Regions from separate parts of the Homo sapiens genome. Here region 2 is linked to region 1. The links come from fine-mapping of genetic effects on gene expression. A gene starts in region 1. The other region holds a variant in brackets. All regions are shown on one strand. Distances are from middle to middle.

Region 1 (9,775 bases):
GTTAATTTCCCCCGTATCTTAACAATGCATGAAGTTTAGTACTACAAGCTGAGTTCTCAGCCCAGGCTGAAAAGGTAGCCTGCGTGGCTTCTGGCCTTTATTCTGGAGGTCTTCCCTGGTTTCCTCGGGGTCAGGGGTCAAAGGTGCAAAGTACAGAGTAGGACTTGTGGTGAGCTGGACTCTAGGGCACCGTCAACAAGGGAATGAAGGAAAAATCACACTTACCTGTCATCTCTCTTTAGAAAGACGCCGACATAAGGCTGGGCGAGACGAACTTTCCTTCTCAGCAGCTCAACCAACTTCTTATTTTTAACCTAGCATGACAATGACCCCAAAGTGAAATGCAGAGTAGATTTTTTTTTTGAGACAGAGTCTCATTCTGTTGCCCTGGCTGGAATGTAATGGCGTGATCTCAGCTCACTGCAACCTCCACCCCCACTGAGTTCAAGGGATTCTCCTGCCTCAGCCTCCTGAGTAGCTGGGATTACAGGCATGCACCACCACACCTGGCTAATTTTTTTATTTTTAGTAGAGATGGGGTTTCACCATATTGGCCAGGTTGGTCTCGAACTCCTGACCTCAGGTGATCCACCCACCTCAGCCTCCCAAAATGCCGGGATTATAGGCGTGAGCCACCAAACGCAGCACAGGGTAGCTTTTCTTTTTTTTTTTTTTTTCTGAGACGGAGTCTCGCTCTGTCACCCAGGCTGGAGTGCAGTGGCATGATCTCAGCTCACTGCAACCTCCGCCTCCCGGGATCAAGCAATTCTCTGCCTCAGCCTCCTGAGTAGCTGGGATTACAGGCGCCCGCCACCAGGTCCGGCTGATTGTTTTGTATTTTTAGTAGAGATGGGGTTTCACCATCTTGGCCAGGATGGTCTTTAACTCCTGACCTCGTGATCCACCCACCTCAGCCTCCCAAAGTGCTGGGATTATAGGCGTAAACTACCACGCCCGGCCTCCCAGGGTAGCTTTTGTAGCTGACATTTTTTGACAGCAGAGCCGCTCTAACGCTGTGTAGATTATTCTCTGGGGACATGCTGATCCGCATCCTGGATACTAATCAACATGGTTTGGGAACGCCTAAACAAAAAAAAAAAAAAAAAAAAAAAAGTGCTGGAGGCCAGGAGGCTGTGGTGGTGAATACAGTGAGCAGAACTGACCAGCTGGATTCTTCTTAGCGGTTTCCCCACTCCCAAAGGAAATTCAAAGTAGACGAATGGTCAGAACCCAGAAATTGATTTAACATCCAGCTTCAAAGGGGATGTCCAGGGCAAACTGTCTTGGTTTGAAAATCAAAACCATTCTGCTTTTATTAATGTCAGAATAAACATAAGTAATTTAAATGTGACCCACTCCAGAGATTGATAACTTCCTTTTTTTTTTTTTTTTAATAAAGTTTCAGGCTGGGCGCGGTGGCTCACGCCTGTAATCCCAGCACTTTGGGAGGCCGAGGCGGGCAGATCACAAGGTCAGGAGATCGAGACCATCCTGGCTAACACGGTGAAACCCCGTCTCTACTAAAAATACAAAAATTAGCCGGGCGTGGTGGCGGGCACCTGTAGTCCCAGCTACTCGGGAGGCTGAGGCAGGAGAATGGCGTGAACCCGGGAGGCGGAGCATGCAGTGAGCCAAGATCACGCCACTGCACTCCAGCCTGGGCGACAGAGTGAGACTCTGTCTCATAAAAAAAAAAAAAAAAAAAAAAAAAAAAAAAAAAAAGAAAGTTTCACTCTGCCACCCAGGCTGGAGTGCACTGGTGCAATCTCGGCTCACTGCAACCTCCACCTCCCAGGTTCAAGCGATTCTTCCAACTCATCCTACCACATAGCTGGGGTTACAAGCACACGCCACTGCACTCGCTAATTTTTGTATTATTAGTAGAGACGGAGTTTCGCCATGAGCCACCATGCCTGGTTCCTCCAATTTTCATTGACAGTTACTTCCTTATCACATCATATGCTGTTCATTAATGATCAAGACCCCCAGGATCACAGCACATTCTCAACGGCAGGTTCAGGGCTAATGATGTCTTCTAAGAAGCATTTGAAGGCGCAAGGAGCTCACCTGATTTCTTTCAAGCCTTTGTTAATTCACTGGACAGACCCTGATTAAAGGTAATGGCCTGGCTAGCCTGGTAATGGTAGCTCATGCCTGTAATCCCAGCACTTTGCGGGGCTGAGGTGGGAGGATCGCTTGAGCCCAGGAGTTTGAGACCAGCCTGGGTAACACAGTGAGACCCCATCTCTATTTTCTTTTTGAAGTTTTTAATTCTTTATTATATAATAAAGTTAAAATATACATATATATATATATATATATATATATATATATATATATATAGTAATGGCCCTCAAACTTTTGCAGGCACCAGGATGACCTGAAGGACTTTAAGCAGCTCACTGCTGGGCCCCACCCTTGGAGTTTTTGATTCAGTTCTAGGGTGGGTCCAAAAATCTGCATTTCAAACAAAAGAGCATCACATGATGCCGATGCTGCTGGTCCACAACCATCCTTTGAGAGCCAGTGTTTTGACTCACTCCCTAACACAGGCTCTTAACTTGTGGTCCAGAAATTCCTGACACTATAGATACATAATTTTTTTTTTTTCTGTTCCCAGAAAAAAAAAAGTCAGTAACATCTGACAGGAGGGTGTGTGACCCACTGTTATAAGTAAAATGTTTGTTTAGAGACAGAACGCTTGTACCTCTGTACTGTAAGGAAAAATTAGCATTTGGACAAAAAGTTTTCTTAGCAAGACAATTTTACTTTCTGAAGAAAGGGTGCTCCTCGCAGATGGAACAATGGCGAGAGCAGAGCACACCTGAACAAAGGAGGGAAGCAATTTTTTTTTAAGACAGAGTCTTGCTCTGTCGCCCAGGCTAGAGCGCAGTGGAGCGATCTCAGCTCACTGCAAGCTCCGCCTCCTGGGTTCACACCATTCTCCTGCCTCAGCCTCCCGAGTAGCTGGGACTACGGGCGCCCACCACCACTCCAGGCTAATTTTTTTGTATTTTTAGTAGAGACGGGGTTTCACCTTGTTAGCCAGTATGGTCTCGATCTCCTGACCTCGTGATCCGCCCACCTCAGCCTCCCAAAGTGCTGGGATTGCAGGCGTGAGCCACCGCGCCCAGCCCACGAAGTTAGTTTTTAAAAGAAACTAATACTTCTAACACTTATGATTTATTCTTTAATACCCACCAAAAATTAAGAGCCATTGTTCCTTACTCAAAAGTTGCTAATAGGAGAGAAGCTTCTAGAGCAAGTTGGCCAGACAAGTCAAGTACAAACTGAAGAGTAAATCAAGCTTTGCTAACAATTTCAGAAACATTTATTGGGTCCCAAAGAAGTTGCCTCCCAATTTCCCCTCTGCCAACAGCTGATAGCTGCATCCTTGGCATCTGCCTCCTGGCCTTGGCAGGATCCATTTTTATGATTTACAATGCATCATCAACCAGAAATACAATGAGAACCACCTGCCAGTCTCCCAAATACTATCTGCAGCCACTCATTTAACTCTCCTGGCTAGCTCCACGTGGGCCGTCTGAACTCTCTTAGAAGAATCATCTCTCTGCTCAGGCACCGGGAGCAAGGGGCATCTGTCGCTCTGCAGAACGGAGGGGACCAGGCCTGATGAACACCATCCTGGGCCCAGAAACCTGGGAGGGTAAAGAGAACTGCCAGGGGTGAAGTCAAGGATGGGAAAAAGGCCTCCGGGGCAGAGTCCTGAAATGTCAGAAGTACACCAAAGAGGAAACAGCATCACGTTATTGCTGAGGCAGGGCCTCATTCTGTTGCCCAGGCTGCAGTGCAGTGGTGACACCATGGCTCACTGCAGCCTTGATCTCCCAGTTTCAAGTGATCCTCCTGCCTCAGCCTTCCAAGTAGCTGGGAAGACAGGTGCATGCCACTGTGCCCGGCTTTTCTTTCTTTCTTTTTTTTTTTTTTTTTGTAGAGACAGGGTCTATGTTGACCATACTGGTTTCAAATTATGCTCCTGCCTCAGCCTCCCAAAGTGCTGGGATTAAACATGTGAGACACCGTGCCCAGCCCACATGGCCTCATTTAAATCCCACAACAACTCTAATAAGACACTAATATGTCCAGGTCACAGATGAGAAGAGGGAAGCCAAAGGAATAACTTGCTGAAGGTTATGGAGCTAGGATAGGACCCCACAAGGTCTTGCTCTGGGGGCCTGCATCAGTAACCAGTACTCAACATCAAGGAAAGGCCTTGGGGCCGGGCGCAGTGACTCGCACCTGCAATCCCAGCACTTTGGGAGGCTGAGGCGGGTGAATCACTTGAGGTCAGGAGTTCGAGACGAGCGTGGGCAACATGGTGAAACCCTGTCTCTTCTAAAAATAGAAAAATTAGCCAGCCACGGTGGCGGGCGCCTGTAATCCCAGCTACTCAGGGGGCTGAGGCAGGAGAATCACTTGAACCCGGGAGGCAGAGGTTGCAGTGAGCTGAAATCGCGCCACTGCACTTTAGCCTAGATGACAGAGTGCAACTTGGTCTCAAAAAAAAAAAAAAAAAAATCTTGGAGCAGCGTTGGAGAAGCTCCCTCTGTCCCCTCTCTACTGGCTGCTGCCCCTCTGAAATGGCCTTTCCCTTCCCAACAGATCCTTGAGATTTGTTTAGAAGAGTCTGGAGAGTGAGCGCAGAGGCTGACTCACTGCGTGACCTTGCTCTGCCAGTTAGGAGATAACCTTCCCATAGATGCCACTTTCCACATCAGTAGTTTTTTTTTTTAAGGGAAGGGGAGCTGGGGGAGAAGGCTTTTGGGGCCTTCCTACTGTAAAAGCTCAAGTTCCTTACACTCACTGCTTTCTCTCTATTACATCATCCTGCTCCCTCCCCACCCCCAAGGCTCTTAGTCTGAAATGATCTAATTTCTACCACCGGAATGACTTGTTCTCTACAGTATTCTCAGAACTTGCTACGTGGTAGGAGGTCAAGAACACACTGAATAACCCACCTCTTCCCACCCTCCTAAGCCTCCTGTCCCATCCATGCTCTACTATTTCTCGTAATTATTGCCTTCTAATACAATATCGTTACTAAACATCTTTATTGCCTGTCTCATCCTGCCAAAATGTAAGCTCCAAGGCAGATTTATTTTTTAAGAGACAGGGTCTCGCCATGTTGACCAGGCTGGACTCCAGGTTTCCAACAATCCTTCCACCTCAGCCGCCAGAGTAGCTGGGAGTACAGCGCGCGCCACCATGCCCAGCTTCAAAGGCAGAAATTTTTGTCTGTTTTGTTCACTGCCATATCCCCAGAACCTAGAACACTCTCTGGCAAATAATAAGCAATCAAGAAGTATTTGTCTAAGAAAGGAATGAATTCTGATCCCAGTGAGGCTCGTAACCAGACGGCAGAGCGCCTGGGGCGAGGAGGTATTACAAAACTCGTGCCAAGTAAGGAGAAAACTAACAGCGCCGTAACACTACTCAGGTCCCTCCCGGCCCCGGATTTCTATGACCGGCGTTCTAAAGTGGATAATCCTAGGCTCATCGGGTTCAACTCCTCTCATCTAACGGATCCTAAGAAATCCGAAAGGGAGAGGACTTTGGCTCAAGGTTCCCAAGCTAGTGGTGAGCAGACAAGGATTCGAACTGCACCCTTCGAGAAACTTCATGTCTGAAAAAGTTGCGAAACACAAGGGCGCTCAAGTGATCCCACGGTTCAGCCCGCTGCTTGCACAGGTGGGAAACCTGAGGCCGAGGCGGGGACTCCCATTACCTCGATAATCTTGATAAAGCGCGGGAACACCGGGTTGCGGGTGATGGCGATGAGCGGCAGGTGCGGAAACACATCGGGGATCGTCATGGGCGTGAGCGCCGTTATGACCGGGCCTTCCCCGGCGCCCGCGCTGCCCCCCGCGCCGCCGGCTCCTTCCTCCGCGCCGCCCTCGGAGGCGTCCTCGCCCCCCGAGAATGCGCCTCCGCCGCGGCTGCTCGCTTCCCAAAACCCCCGCCATTGGCCCCCAATTGCCGGGCCTCGGCCCCACAGTGCCCAAGGAGGAGAGGCGTCGCAGGTCCGCTGGCCTCGGAGCAACCACGCTCCTGCTGCAGTGGGAACCCGCCCCCCGGCGGCGGCCAGCATCGGCCGCCGCAGCACCCAGCACCGCGCCGCTCCCCACAGTCGCACGTAGCCAGTGCTCGCCGCCATAGCCCGGCCATACTGGCGGCTCACACAACTCGCGTCATTTCCGCTCGCCGCGAAACGCACGTGACGCCCGGCGCGTGCCTCGGTACCCGATGGGCGCGTGGCTCGAAACAGCCGCTTCAGGGAGCTGGGCCTACGCGGAGAAGAGGGGGCGGAGTTCGAGCATCGGATCGTCTCCGCCTCTTCCGGTCTCCCACTTTATGCGCTGAAGGCCTTTTCCGGTCACGTGGAAGGCTGTGAGCAGGCGCCAGCGCCCGTACAAAACACTGGTAGTGTTGCAAACGCAACGTTTAGGAACTCATGAGCAGCCTGTGCACATGCTTAGGCGCGCGGACAACATGCGCATGCTCAGACTCTAGACTGGCCACGGGTGGCCGGGTGCGCATACTCAGGCTCTGAGCGCACTTTGGGGTGCGCGGATTCGGGCTTCCCGGGATTCGTCTGCGCATGCTCAAGATTCAGGCGGAGCGCCGGGCTGCAGTGCGCGGAGGCCCGCTCCCGGGACTCATTGATGCGCATGCGCAGGGCTTCAGCCTGCACGTACTCGGATTGTGCAGCGACTCCCCGTGGCGGTTGAGGGGCAGTGGTGGCGGCGGAAGCCCAAGTCGATGCTGATGTTGATGCTGGTGGCGGCTGTGACCATGTGGCTCCGACCGCTGGTCACAGCTCAGCTCTGTCGGTGGGGCTGCCAGGACTCCTGGGGCTGGGGTGCTGCCGGGGGTCGGGAGGGTGCTGGTTCATCTTGGAGCCGAGGCCTGCTCCCCAACCTCACTGAGGCTCCCCTTTTACTCTTTTTAGGAATCGAACTTGACGCCTCGCTCACCCTACTCCACCCCATCCTCCCAGCCCGATATTAAGCTCTCCTACCTCTTTTTTTTTTTTTTTTTGAGACGGAGTCTCGCTCTGTCGCCCAGGCTGCAGTGCAGTGGCGCGATCTCGGCTCACTGCAAGCTCCGCCTCCCGGATTCACGCCATTCTCCTGCCTCAGCCTCCTGAGTAGCTGGGACTACAGGCGCCTGCCACCACGCCCGGCTAATTTTTTTTTGTATTTTTAGTAAAGACGGGGGTTTCACCGTATTAGCCAGGATGGTCCCGATCTCCTGACCTCGTGACCCGCCTGCCTCGGCCTCCCAAAGTGCTGGGATTACAGGCGTGAGCCACCACGCCGGGCCTAGCCCTCCCACTTCTTTTTCTTTTTGGAGCCGGAGTTTTTGCTCTGTTTCCCAGGGTGGAGTGCAGTGGCGCGATCTCTGCTCACTGCAACCCCCGCCTCCCAAAGTGCTGGGATTGCAGGCGTGAGCCACCGCGCCCAGCCTTACCCAGCACATTTTGAAATTTCAGTAAATGTTAGGTTAGTGCATACTCCAACCTGCCATGGGGACCAGTTGCTGAAACTCCGTTCCTGCCCTCAGGGAACTCCCATCTGGACTAAACTGTCACATTCAGTAGGGACCTGTGAGCTGTATTCTTAGGGTGTATGGCCTCATTTGATGTTTACAGGAAGATTCATAATGATTCCTTAACCTTATTTTATTTTATTTATTATTATTTTTTGTACAGATGGGGTCTCACTGGCTGGGTGCAGTGGCTCACGCCTGTAATCCCAACACTTTGAGAGGTAGAGGTGGGCAGATCACTCACTTGAGGTCAAGAGTTCCAGACCAGCCTGGCCAACATGATGAAACCTCGTCTCTACTAAAAATACAAAAATTAGCCAGGCTTGGTGGCAGGTGCCTGTAATCCCAGCTACTTGGGAGGCTGAGGCAGAAAAATCGCTTGAATTCAGGAGGTGGAGGTTGCAGTGAGCTGAGATCGCACTCCAGCCTGGGTGACAAAGGGAGACTCTGTCTCAAAGGAAAAAAAAAAAAAAAGAGATGGGGTCTCACTGTTTTGCCCAGGCTGGTCTTGAACTCCTAGGCTCCAGTGATCCTCCTGCCTCAGCCTCCCAAAGTGTTGGGATTACAGGCATGAGCCACCCATGCCCAGCCATACCCTTATTTTATTTTTTTGAGATGGAGTCTTGTTCTCGTCGCCCAGGCTGGAGTACAATGTCACGGTCTCGGCTCACTGCAACCTCCGCCTCCCAAGTTCAAGCAATTCTCCTGCCTCAGCCTCCAGAGTAGTTGGGATTATGGGCGCCTGCCACCACGTGCAGCTAATTTTTTGTGTTTTTAGTAGAGACAGGGTTCCACCATGTTGCCCAGGTTGGTCTCGAACTCCTGACCTCGTGATTCACTTGCCTCGGCCTCCCAACGTGCTGGGCTTACAGGCGTGTGCCACCGCGCCCGGCCAACACCCTTATTTTATAGATACGAAAGCATACTTAGGAAAGTTAAAGACACACTTGCCTAACAACACATACCTAGTAAGTGGGAGAAACATTTTCCAGTGAAATTTACTAATAGGATTTGTCTCGAGTTCTGAAAATGTGGGTTATATCCAGTTCTCTCATTTCCCCACACAGGCTCTCAAAGAATGGTCCCTGGACCAGCAGCATCAAGATCACCTGGAATTTATTATAATTGGTTAGAAATGCAGTTCCCTGGACCTACTGAGTCGGGGACTTGGCAGTGGGACCCAGCAAACGGTGGTTTATCAAGACCCCCCCCCCCGCAACCCCGGTGATTCTGATGCATATTCAAGATTGAGCACCTCTGCTGTAAACTATACCATCCTTCCAGTCACCACACACTCCCTTAAGGAGCCCCGAATACCTTGTTGCAGGACTTCATAATTTTCCTCAGCTGGGGTCTGTGAAGGAGCCTTTAGAAATTCTTGGCCGGGCGCGGGGGCTCACGCCTGTAATCCCAGCACTTTGGGAGGTGGAGGCGGGCGGATCACGAGGTCAGGAGATCGAGACCATCCTGGCTAACACGGTGAAACCTCGTCTCTACCAAAAATACAAAAAATTAGTCGGTGTGGTGGCGGGCGCTTGTAGTCCCAGCTACTCGGGAGGCTGAGGCAGGAGAATGGCGTGAACCCGGGAGGTGGAGCTTGCAGTGAGCTGAGATCGCGCCACTGCACTCCAGCCTGGGCGACGGAGCGAGATTCTGTCTCAAAAAAAAAAAAAAGAAAAAGAAAAAGAAAAAAGAAATTTTCAGAAATCATTTCTACATTTTGTGTGTACTTATGTCTGTTTCTGGGAGAGGAGTTTCATACAAATTTTATTTTTTGACGGAGGCTTGCTCTGTCGCCCAGGCTGGAGTGCAGTGTGGCAAGAGCTCAACTCACTGCAACCTCTGCCTCCAAGGTTCAAGCGATTCTAGTGCCTCAGCCCTCAGCCTCCTGAGTATCTGGGATAACAGGCGCCCGCCACCCTGCCCAGCTAATTTTTTTTTTTTTTTTTTTTTTTTGAGACGGAGTCTCGCTCTGTTGCCCAGGCTGGAGTGCAATGGCGCCATCTCGGCTCACTGCAAGCTCTGCCTTCTGGGTTCACACCATTCTCCTGCCTCAGCCTCCCGAGTAGCTGGGACTACAGGTGCCGCAACCACGCCCGGCTAATTTTTTTGTGTTTTTAGTAGAGACGGGGTTTCACCGTGTTAGCCAGGATGGTCTCGATCTCCTGACTTCGTGATCCACCCGCCTCGGCCTCCTAAAGTGCTG
Region 2 (10,189 bases), 30 kb before region 1:
TTCACCATGTTGGCCAGGCTGGTCTCGAACTCCTGATCTCAAGTGATTTGCCCGCCTCAGCCTCCCAAAGTGCTGGGATTCCAGGCATGAGCCACCACATCCAGCTGAAGGAGGTCACTTTTGCACTGAGACTTGAAAGAAGTGAGAGAGCAAGCCATTGGGTTATATCCGGGAACAGCATTCTAGGCAGTAGGAACAGCCCACGAGAAGGCCCTGAGGCAGGATAGTGACTGGCTGGTTTCAAGGAACAGCGAAGGGTCTGTTTTAGTGGAGCGGAGTGAGCAAGGAGGACAGGTCCACACAGGGCGTTTGTAGCCACCAAGGAGTCTGGTTTTTATTCTAACTGGAACAGGAAGGATTTTCAGTCCAGGAGAGGCAAGGTGTGCAGATGGAGAGGGCTGAGAAGGGTGGAGGGGGAGGGTGCAGGTGCGGTGGTTCATGGAGCCGCGGTGGTTCATGGAGCCACCGTGGTGGCCTGGACAGGTGGTGGCTGTGGAGGTGGATAGGAAGGCGTGGATCCAAGGCGGTGGCATCACCAAACACCCACCAAACACGGGTGGCTGTGGGCCAGGCCTGTGCCGGCCACCTCTGTCCCCTGTCCCTCTGCAGGCCCACACAGGACCATGAAGGTGCTTCTCCTCACAGGGCTGGGGGCCCTGTTCTTCGCCTATTATTGGGATGACAACTTCGACCCAGGTGAGCACCTGGGGTTGAGGGAGGGAGAAACCGGGCCAGCTGTCCTGTCCTCCGCCCAGAGTGACCACCCCGGCTATGGCCAGCCAGCCTCCAGGGAGCGCGAGTGCTGCTGACAGGGGCCAACGCTGGTGTTGGTGAGGAGCTGGCCTATCACTACGCGCGTCTGGGCTCCCACCTGGTGCTCACTGCCCACACTGAGGCTCTCCTGCAGAAGGTGAGCCACCCCATGTCTAGATGAATGGTGGGGGTGCTCATGGGGGGTGGGAAGAGAGCCTGGGTTTAATCCCTGCAATGATCCAGGCTTCCCGTGTGACCTTGGGCAAGTCGCCTAACCTCTCTGAGCCTCTCAGTTTCCTCATTTGCAAAACGGGGACAATAAAACCACTTTCTGGCCAGGCACGGTGGCTCACGCTTGTAGTCAGCACTTTGGGAGGCCGAGGAAAGTGGATCACCTGAGGTCAGGAGTTCAAGACCAGCCTGGCCAACATGGCGAAACCTGGTCTCTACTAAGAAGACAAAAATTAGGCCAGGCATGGTGGCTCATGCCTGTAATCCTAGCACTTTGGGAGGCCAAGGCGGATGGATCACTTGAGGTCAGGAGTTCAAAACCAGCCTGGCCAACATGGTGAAACCCTGTCTCTACTAAAAATACAAAAAATAAAAATAAAATAAATAAATAAAAAATTAGCCGGCGTGGTGTCAGGCACCTGTAATCCCAGCTACTGGGGAGGCTGAGGCGGGAGAATTGCTGGAACCCGGGAGGTGGAGGTTGCAGTGAGCTGAGATCGCGCCACTGCACTCCAGCCTGGGTGACAGAGCGATACTCCATCTCAAAAAAAAGAAAAAAAAAAATTAGGGCATGGTGGCGCGAGCATGTAGTCCCAGCTACATGGGAGGCTGAGTCAGGAGAATCACTTGAACCCCGGAGGCAGAGGTTGCAGTGAGCCGAGATCGCACTACTGCACTCCAGCCTGGGCAACAAAGTGAGACTCTGTCTCAAACAAACAAACAAAAAAACCCACCTTCTCATGGGTTAGGATGTTGTGCCAATGCAGTGAGACGGTGACTAGAAGATGCAGTGTTTCTTAACAAATGAGAGTATTGAGTGTCCAGGCCTGTGCTGATAGCCAGGGTTCTTAAACTCGAAGGGAAGGATGGGCACTTCTTAGCAACAAGCAGTCCATTGCTACTTCAAGGAAGGGTATGGCTCTTGGGCACAAACCTTTCAATATTTCAAGAGAAGCTAGCAATCAGGAAATTGTAGATGAAATGTCCTGTTTTAGATGTTGGTGATTGACTAACCACCAAATTGGCCAGCATTCTGGCCCGCGGGCCTCCACTTTGCGCCCCTCAAGCAGTGGTAAATTTTTGGGAATGATGTTGAATGGGTCCCGAGGCTCAGAGTAGGGGGGGGTTTTCAGGCGGGGGCCTCCCTATGGCCAGCAGGTGCGGTGGAGGGGGAAGCGCTGCTGTAGAGGAGAGGCCCACGGGCAGCTCTGGCCCCCCCCAGGTGGTAGGGAACTGCCGGAAGCTGGGCGCCCCCAAGGTCTTCTACATCGCGGCGGACATGGCCTCCCCTGAGGCGCCCGAGAGCGTGGTGCAGTTTGCGCTGGACAAGCTGGGTGAGGGGCTGGGCCTGAAGCCTGGAGTCCGGGACCGTGGCCTAGGCCTTAGGGACAGGACCAGAATTGGGCTGTGGGTGTGGCCACAGTAACAGGTGTCTCAGGGCGGAGACAAATGGGGACTGGGGGCGTGGGCGGGGTGGAGTCTCATTGCGTCTGGGGGAAGAGCTCTGAACGGGGCCTCGTTGAATGGGAACCAAACCTTGCTAGATCCAGGGTGTAAGGCCAAGGCTGGGTGTCTTTGATCGTAGTGGGAGTTACCTGGGGCGGAGCTCGCTGGACCAGCGCTCTGGGTGGAGCTAAGCTCGGGGGCGGGGTTTGATCGTTTCCTTGGGGAGGGGCCTCCGGGGCTGACCGGCGTTTCTGGGCCAGGCGGGCTGGACTACCTCGTGCTGAACCACATCGGCGGCGCCCCGGCCGGCACGCGAGCCCGCAGCCCCCAGGCAACTCGCTGGCTCATGCAGGTGCTCCGCTCCTCCGCGGCCCCGGCCCGCCCCTCTATCTCAGGGACCGGTGGTCCGTTCCCTTCGCGGTCCGGGTTCTGCCTTCTCCAGGGAGGGCTCTCCACCCGTCCCGCCCCAGCCACGCCCCTCCTAGCCCAAGCCCCTGCTCCGGCCTTGACCCCGCCCTCGGACCCGCCTTCCGGGTTTCTGGCCCCGTCTCTGACCCGGCCCTGGCCCCGCCCTCTGGGTTTCTGGCCCCGCCCTGCCCCTGGGCTCCGCCTCTGCCGGTGACTCGCGAGTGCCGCCTGCAGGTAAACTTTGTGAGCTACGTGCAACTGACGTCGCGGGCGCTGCCCAGCCTGACGGACAGCAAGGGCTCCCTGGTGGTGGTGTCCTCGCTGCTCGGTGCGTGCACCCGGCCCCGGCTCTGCGGGACGGGGAGTGGGGAGCTCGATGCGGGTGAGCCTGGAGGGTCTGGGCAGGCTTCCCGGACGAGGGGGAGCCACTCAGCCGCTGCCGTCCGCGCCCCCAGGCCGCGTGCCCACGTCGTTCTCCACTCCCTACTCGGCGGCCAAGTTTGCGCTGGACGGCTTCTTCGGCTCCCTGCGGCGGGAGCTGGACGTGCAGGACGTGAACGTGGCCATCACCATGTGCGTCCTGGGCCTCCGAGATCGCGCCTCCGCCGCCGAGGCAGTCAGGTGAGGCCCGGACAAGCTGGGGGCTGGGCTGGGGGCCATGGCCCAGCCCCAGCCGCAGTCCCCACCGTGCCCTCCTGTCCCCAGGGGAGTCACGAGGGTCAAGGCGGCCCCGGGGCCCAAGGCAGCCCTGGCCGTGATCCGCGGCGGCGCCACGCGCGCGGCCGGCGTCTTCTACCCGTGGCGTTTCCGCCTGCTGTGCTTGCTCCGGCGCTGGCTACCGCGCCCGCGGGCCTGGTTTATCCGCCAGGAGCTCAACGTCACGGCCGCGGCAGCCTGAGCACCGGGGGGTGCCCCTCCAGTCCCAGACGGCAATGTTCCTCCCTCCAACTGTCCCTGGAGCCAGAACACTCACAGAGACACCCCTGAGAGGGTGGCCACAGCCCAAGATGAAGTCATCAAGACAGAAAAGCAAAACCGAGAAAAACGACGGGCACCTGGAACCAGTCACGGCTTGGGAGGTGCAGGTGCCCCGTGTTAGGCGCCTTTGTCGGGGACTTGCAAGGCCTCACCTGTTTGGCCATGATTGATGACGTGACTGCTTCCATTTTGCAGATGAGGAAACTAAGGCTCAGAGAGGCCACGCCACCCTTGAGCCACCCATGGACCCCTCTCCATCTCCTGCCTGCGCCTTTAAGTCCCTGATTTATTCTTTCCATTCATTCCATCTGGGAGGAACCCCCCCAACTCCTGCCAGCTTCCCCTAGCTGGGGTCTCTGGTACTCTTCACACCTGCAGGGGCGTCTACACTGTTCGTCTACCTGGTGGCAGGGTCTGAGCGGGAGGAGGAGGGAAAGAGTGTGTTCTGAGCTGGACCCAGCCTCTTGTTCGAGAATAAAAACTCTTCTTCTCTTGCATATCTGTTGTTCAAATTCCTTGGTAATTCCAATTTGCTAGCAGCCAGCGGGCAGCGGGAGGGGGTGTGTGTATCAGGGGCCTTGACTCTCAATCCCATTTCACAGGTGGGGAAATGGAGGCTGAGAGGGCCAGGAGCAGTGGCTCACGCCTATAATCCCAGCACTTTGAGAGGTCAAGGTGGGCAGATCACTTGAGGTCAGGAGTTTGAGACCAGCCTGGCCAACATGGTGAAACCCTGTCTTTATTTATTTATTTATTAGACGGAGTCTCACTCTATCGCCCAGGCTGGAGTGCAGTGGTGCGATCTAGGCTCACTGCAACCTCTGCCTCCGGGGTTCAAGCGATTCTTGTGCCTCAGCCTCCCAAATAGTTCAGATTACAGGTGTGGGTCACAACGCCTGACTTTTTGTATTTTTAGTAGAGACGGGGTTTTACCATGTCGGCCAGGCTGGTCTCGAACTCCTAGCCTTAGGTGATCCCCCTGTCTCGGCCTCTCAAAGTGCTGGGATTACAGGTGTCAGCCACTGCACCCGGCCACAAACAAATATTTTAATTAAAAAATTAGCCAGGCGTGGTGGCATGTGCCTGTGGTCCCAGCTAAGGAGGCTAAGGCAGGAGGATCACTTGAGCCCTGGAAGTCAAGGCTACAATAAGCTATGATTACAGCAGTGCACTCTAGCCTGGGCGACAGAGCAAGACCCTGTCTGGAAAAAACATGAAAGCGCTAACCCTAATTAGAGCAGCCCTAAATTGAGACTCTCTTCTTGTATATTAGTAGCATTAAAGGAGAAAAACTGGAAACTTGTGTGTTTCTGCCACCCGATTCAGTTATTTAGCGTCCCGTCCCTACACCACCTAAATTACATCAGATGTCCGCAAGGGGCACTATTACACGTTGCTGTATTCAGACCTAGTCTAGAGCTTGACCAATTGATAACAAAACCAATACCTTTTTTTTTAAATGGAGTTTCGCTCTGTCGCCCAGGCTGGAGTGCAGTGGTGCGATCTCGGCTCACTGCAACCTCTGCCTCTTGGGCTCAAGCAATTCTCCTGCCTCAGCCTCCTGCGTAGCTGGGATTACAGGAGCATGCCACCACGCCTGGCTATTTATTTATTTATTTATTTATTTATTTATTTATTGAGACGGAGTCTTGCTCTGTCGCCCAGGCTGGAGTGCAGTGGCACGATCTCGGCTCACTGCAAGCTCTGCCTCCTGGGTTCACGCCATTCTCCTGCCTCGGCCTCCCGAGTAGCTGGGACTACAGGTGCCCACCACCACGCCTGGCTAATTTTTTGTATTTTTAGTAGAGACGGGGTTTCACCGTATTAGGCTGGTCTCGAGCTCCTGACCTCGTGATCCACATGCCTCGACCTCCCAAAGTGCTGAGATTACAGGCGTGAGCCACCGCGCCCGGCCTAATGGGCGTTTTAACAGTTCATACAGTTTGGTATTATTATTCCCGCTCTACAAGTGAAGAAATTCTGAGAGGTGATGTCGTCGATGCAGGGTCGGCCCGAAATAGGCGGAGTTGGGATTCGAACTCATTTCACAGGCAGAGGGAGGAGAGCAGCCATAGCCACCTCCACTGGTTCCGACTCCAGCTCCCGGGCTCGCAGGAGTAAACGCGCATGCTCAGGGAGCTCGGTCGCGCATGCTCAGCGCAACGGCGGGGAAGACTCCAGCCGCCAGGGGGAGCGCGTGCCGTTCTTGCCTCTCTGGCCTGCGCCTCCTGAGCCGAGTAGATATCCCGGAGTTCCGCGCGGCGCCAGCCCTTCCGCCACGGCCGTCTCTGGAGAGCAGCAGGTAAGTGGTTTCCCGCACTGCCGGTATCCGCCGCCATCCGGACTCCCGGGTCCTCTGTGCAGGTTGGAGGATGGTTGGTTGTGGCGAGCGAGGCTGAAGGAGCCGGGACGCGGGGCTCTGGGCCTCGGGAACTGAGCCGGTACTCACCTCCGCCC[C/T]TTCTCCCCGTCGCTGTCCGCAGCCATGGCCCTACGCTACCCTATGGCCGTGGGCCTCAACAAGGGCCACAAAGTGACCAAGAACGTGAGCAAGCCCAGGCACAGCCGACGCCGCGGGGTGAGTGCGGGTGCCGCGCGGAGGTTGTCGGGGGTTTCTTGGAGGGCGGAGGGCATGGCTTGGGCAAAGGCTCTCGACCTGAAAGAACGCGCGTTCGGGCGCAGAACTAAGGGGGGCTTGAATGGAAGAGATGGGGTGGGGGAGTGGGACTTCCTGCCTGGTGCTCGAAGGCGGGCACCCATCTGGGTTTTTCCCAACCGTGCAATCCACGCTGGGGCAGAGGGAGCACCTTGAGAGCGGCGCGGGGCAGCGGGTTTGGGGTTCTGACGCAGGAGTAGGAGTTCGCTCATGGAGCTGGCCCGAGGTTGCGGTGTGTGAGGTTGAGGGATTTCAGGTGTGTCAGTGTATTGGGCGCCTTTATTAAGCGGGCAGCGGGTTTGGGGTTCTGACGCAGGAGTAAGGAGTTCGCTCATGGAGCTGGCCCGAGGTTGCGGTGTGTGAGGTTGAGGGATTTCAGGTGTGTCAGTGTATTGGGCGCCTTTATTCAGCAGGCAGCCCAGACTCCAGGTGCGTCCTGCCAGTGTTGCGGAGACTGGGACTTAGGGAGGATGGGAGCTGCTCCGGGCGCGGCGAAAAGCGCTAGGCGTTAATACCTTGGTTCTCACAGCTACCCACAGAGGGGAGGAAGTAGCCAGGGAAATCGCGGCAGCGCGAGAGAAGCTGCTTAACTAGAATGCAGGGATCCCCCTACCCTGACGGCCGCCCCTTTCCCCCCTAGCGTCTGACCAAACACACCAAGTTCGTGCGGGACATGATTCGGGAGGTGTGTGGCTTTGCCCCGTACGAGCGGCGCGCCATGGAGTTACTGAAGGTCTCCAAGGACAAACGGGCCCTCAAATTTATCAAGAAAAGGGTAGGTGGGCGCTGCCGGCCGAGGGGCGGGGTGGGATGGGAGTCAGGGCCGGGCTGACGGCGGCCTCGTCCCTGGCAGGTGGGGACGCACATCCGCGCCAAGAGGAAGCGGGAGGAGCTGAGCAACGTACTGGCCGCCATGAGGAAAGCTGCTGCCAAGAAAGACTGAGCCCCTCCCCTGCCCTCTCCCTGAAATAAAGAACAGCTTGACAGAAGCCCTGGCTCTCCTGCTGTCCGTGGGTGGGTGTGGGTGTGTCGGGGGCCCGCAGTCCCCTGTCTGGTGCCCGCTCTGAGCCACACCCTCTCCGGGTGCTGCCTGGTCGTGAATCAAAAGCCGTGGCCCGCCCACCCTTCCCGGGGCAGCAGGTGAGGAAGCCGCCGTACTGCAAATGACTTTAATCATTAAATAGCTTCTATGCCACACTCTGATTAAGCCGACTGAGGTCCCTGGGATCTGGGTCACTGGACCGAGCTGCTCGCTCGGTGGCTCCACTGCCAGGTCCGGGCGCGCTCCCCACAGCGCTCAGTTCTGGCCCAGACAGGGCCTGACATCCGCCGCCTGCAGTCCCGGGGTGGCCGTCACCGTTCCACGGCCAGCGCCTCTGCCTGCTCGTCCGGGAAGGCGATGTCGAAGATCTCCCGGTAGTGTTCCACGAAGTGCACCTCCAGGCCCTCGGTGATGAAGGCTGCCAGGTCGTAGAAGTCCTTCTTGTTCTCGGCTGGCAGGACGATGCACGTCACCCCTGCGCGCTTGGCCTGGGGGCAGAGTCAGGGTCAGCCCTGCCTGGGCCTGTGGGAGGGCAGCAGGTGTGCTAACCTCCAGGAACGAAAGGGCTTCCTGGGGACCGGCGATACACAGTGATGCCGGGTTCTAAGCAGTAAGTCCCAAAACCCACCAGGGTCCCCGTCTCCCACGGGGAAACAGGCTCAAGGCAAAACCACTGGCCTTGGCTCCAACAGCCTGAGAGCAGGAGCCAGGGCCTCCCCACCCCCTTATCTAGGAAGTCTGGCCGTGCGGTGGGAGCAGTCTCAGGGCTCTGGATGAGCCACACACCCACGGCCTCACATCCAGAGGTCAGGCAGTGTCTGGGGCCTGAACAGGGTTCCTGTGAGCATCTGCATCTCTGCCCCCAGGCCCTGCGTCACCCCCCTCACCTCCGGAGGCTACACATATCTGGAGTAGATGCCAGGCACAGCCCCACCACAGCCCCTTGAAAGGACAGCAGTTCCCACTGTCACCGCACACTGACTCCATGGACAGTGAGCCTCCCAATTTGCCTCCACCATTTTATCATCTAGGAAGTCTGTGCCTGGTGTCCAATTCAAGGTGGTCACAGCCACTTGACCATGCCTCCCTCGTGGTGGCATCTCCTGACTGACTGCACCAGGCTTCCTAGACACATGGCAAGTGTGGTCCAGTCTGGGGACAGGCAGGGATGGGAGGGAAGAGTGGGGACAGTGGCGCTCCAACCTGCTCAGCACCCTTGGAAGAGGCCAGCCCCTGGCCAGGGGCTCCAAACACCCCCGCCACCAGTAATCCTAAACGTCGTCCCCATCTCTAGCCTCTCCCTTGGCGCTGGGCTGCCTGGGAAGAGAAGCAGGAGCCACCCCCCCAATCCTACTGGGGAAGCCAGTGGAGGCTCAGAATGTTCTCCACAAGACTTGCTGTGGAGAAGGCAGCTAGGGCGGTGAGCTTAAGGCCAGCTCCAGGCCAGAGAGACCTGCTTCCAAAGCCCAGGGCTTCCCTCTCCTTGGCCCAGGCAGAGGTTGCATGGCGGGGACTGGGCCTGTCCCGTGGTGGTGTGGGCCCTGCCAGTGCTGTGGGGTGGGTACAGGGACACTCACCGCAATGGTCTTCTCCTTGATGCCACCAACAGGCAGGATCTTGCCCGTGAGGGAGACTTCGCCAGTCATGGCCAGATTCTGCCGGACAGGCCTGCCCATGGCCAGGGACAGCAGGGCCGTGACGATGGTGCAGCCTGCGCTTGGGCCGTCCTTGGGGGTGGCGCCCTGTGGAGGCATGTGGGGATAGTGGGTGAGCAGGTGGCCAGCAGCCCAGGGACTGGGCGGGAGCAGGTGGGAGCGGATGGCGCGGTCACCTCGGGCACATGCAGGTGGATGTGTGAGGTCACCAGGTAGTCATTGGCGGGGGCGTGCTGCATGAGGAAGGCTCTGGCGAAGGTGTAGGCTATGCGGGCGCTCTCCTTCATCACCTCCCCCAGCTGGCCTGTCACCTCCAGGCTGCCATCCTTGTCACCCTTGGCATCCTTGTCCTGTGGCCGTCTCAGGGATGTCTCCACAAACAGCGTGGAGCCTCCTGAAACAGGTGTGGAGCTGTGAACACGGGAGGCCTCGGAGCCCAGGCCGGTGCTCACTCCACCCCTCGGGGCCACTCTGACCGCTCCTGCCCCAGTTTAGCATCTTGGTGCCCCTGGGCAGGGGTTGGTGTCCCATCGTGAGCCAACGCTGGCCTCTACGTTTGCTGCGTTGCGGGTTCCTGGCTCTGTACGCCCCACAGGGCAGCCCCCAGCAGCTGCCAGCCACAGAGGACACGCCCAGGGCTACAAGGCCCAGCTGCCGCTGCCCTGCAGACAGACACAAGCCCTTCTCCAGCCCCTCCCGCACCATCCCCTTTGCCCTCTCGCCTCCTTTGTGCGTGGTGGCCCCAAGGCCCATCTGGATGAGCTTGTCCTTACCTGTAAGCCTATCAAAGTGGCACCCAAATCCATAAGGCCCATGGTGTGCTGCCACCCCCATGTGTCACAGCCTTCCCCTCCCTCAGCCCAGACCCCCTGGGCTCCCAGCACACCACCCCCCGCCAGAGGCCGTTCAGAGCCACCTGAGGCCCACTGCACAGGTGTACAAGGTGGGACCTGCTTGTTCTCGGGTAGAAATGGGAATGGCTTTGGGGTCTTCTCCCGCCACCACGCTCACCCATTGCGGTCC

The links. PIP is the estimated chance that this variant, and not a neighbour inherited with it, causes the effect.
Region 2: its variant is fine-mapped to the expression of LONP1 in whole blood (TOPMed, PIP 0.94).

Annotation. Positions count from the first base shown.
Region 1 is chr19:5,713,958-5,723,732 of GRCh38, forward strand. LONP1 (lon peptidase 1, mitochondrial) reads right to left here and starts at 6,189. Exons shown (of 18, transcript NM_004793.4): 1 at 5,747-6,189; 2 at 226-314. The coding sequence starts at 6,175. CATSPERD (catsper channel auxiliary subunit delta) reads left to right here and starts at 6,680. Exons shown (of 22, transcript NM_152784.4): 1 at 6,680-6,851. The coding sequence starts at 6,781. RefSeq lists enhancers at 3,804-4,320, 4,321-4,836, 5,870-6,386, 6,339-6,438 and silencers at 5,799-5,878, 6,009-6,058.
Region 2 is chr19:5,684,210-5,694,398 of GRCh38, forward strand. It overlaps HSD11B1L (hydroxysteroid 11-beta dehydrogenase 1 like), which reads left to right. Exons shown (of 8, transcript NM_198706.3): 2 at 610-696; 3 at 780-910; 4 at 2,207-2,318; 5 at 2,691-2,782; 6 at 3,073-3,166; 7 at 3,294-3,459; 8 at 3,544-4,313. The coding sequence starts at 624. The coding sequence ends at 3,736. It overlaps RPL36 (ribosomal protein L36), which reads left to right and starts at 6,086. Exons shown (of 4, transcript NM_033643.3): 1 at 6,086-6,118; 2 at 6,297-6,391; 3 at 7,110-7,244; 4 at 7,323-7,666. The coding sequence starts at 6,299. The coding sequence ends at 7,412. It overlaps LONP1 (lon peptidase 1, mitochondrial), which reads right to left. Exons shown (of 18, transcript NM_004793.4): 15 at 10,178-10,189; 16 at 9,343-9,560; 17 at 9,089-9,253; 18 at 7,625-7,999. The coding sequence ends at 7,823. RefSeq lists silencers at 2,550-2,809, 2,880-3,029, 3,270-3,329, 7,148-7,197 and enhancers at 3,507-4,006, 5,758-5,807, 5,863-6,388, 6,389-6,914, 6,915-7,440 and 2 more. The variant C/T (reference allele first, on the strand shown) is at 6,274.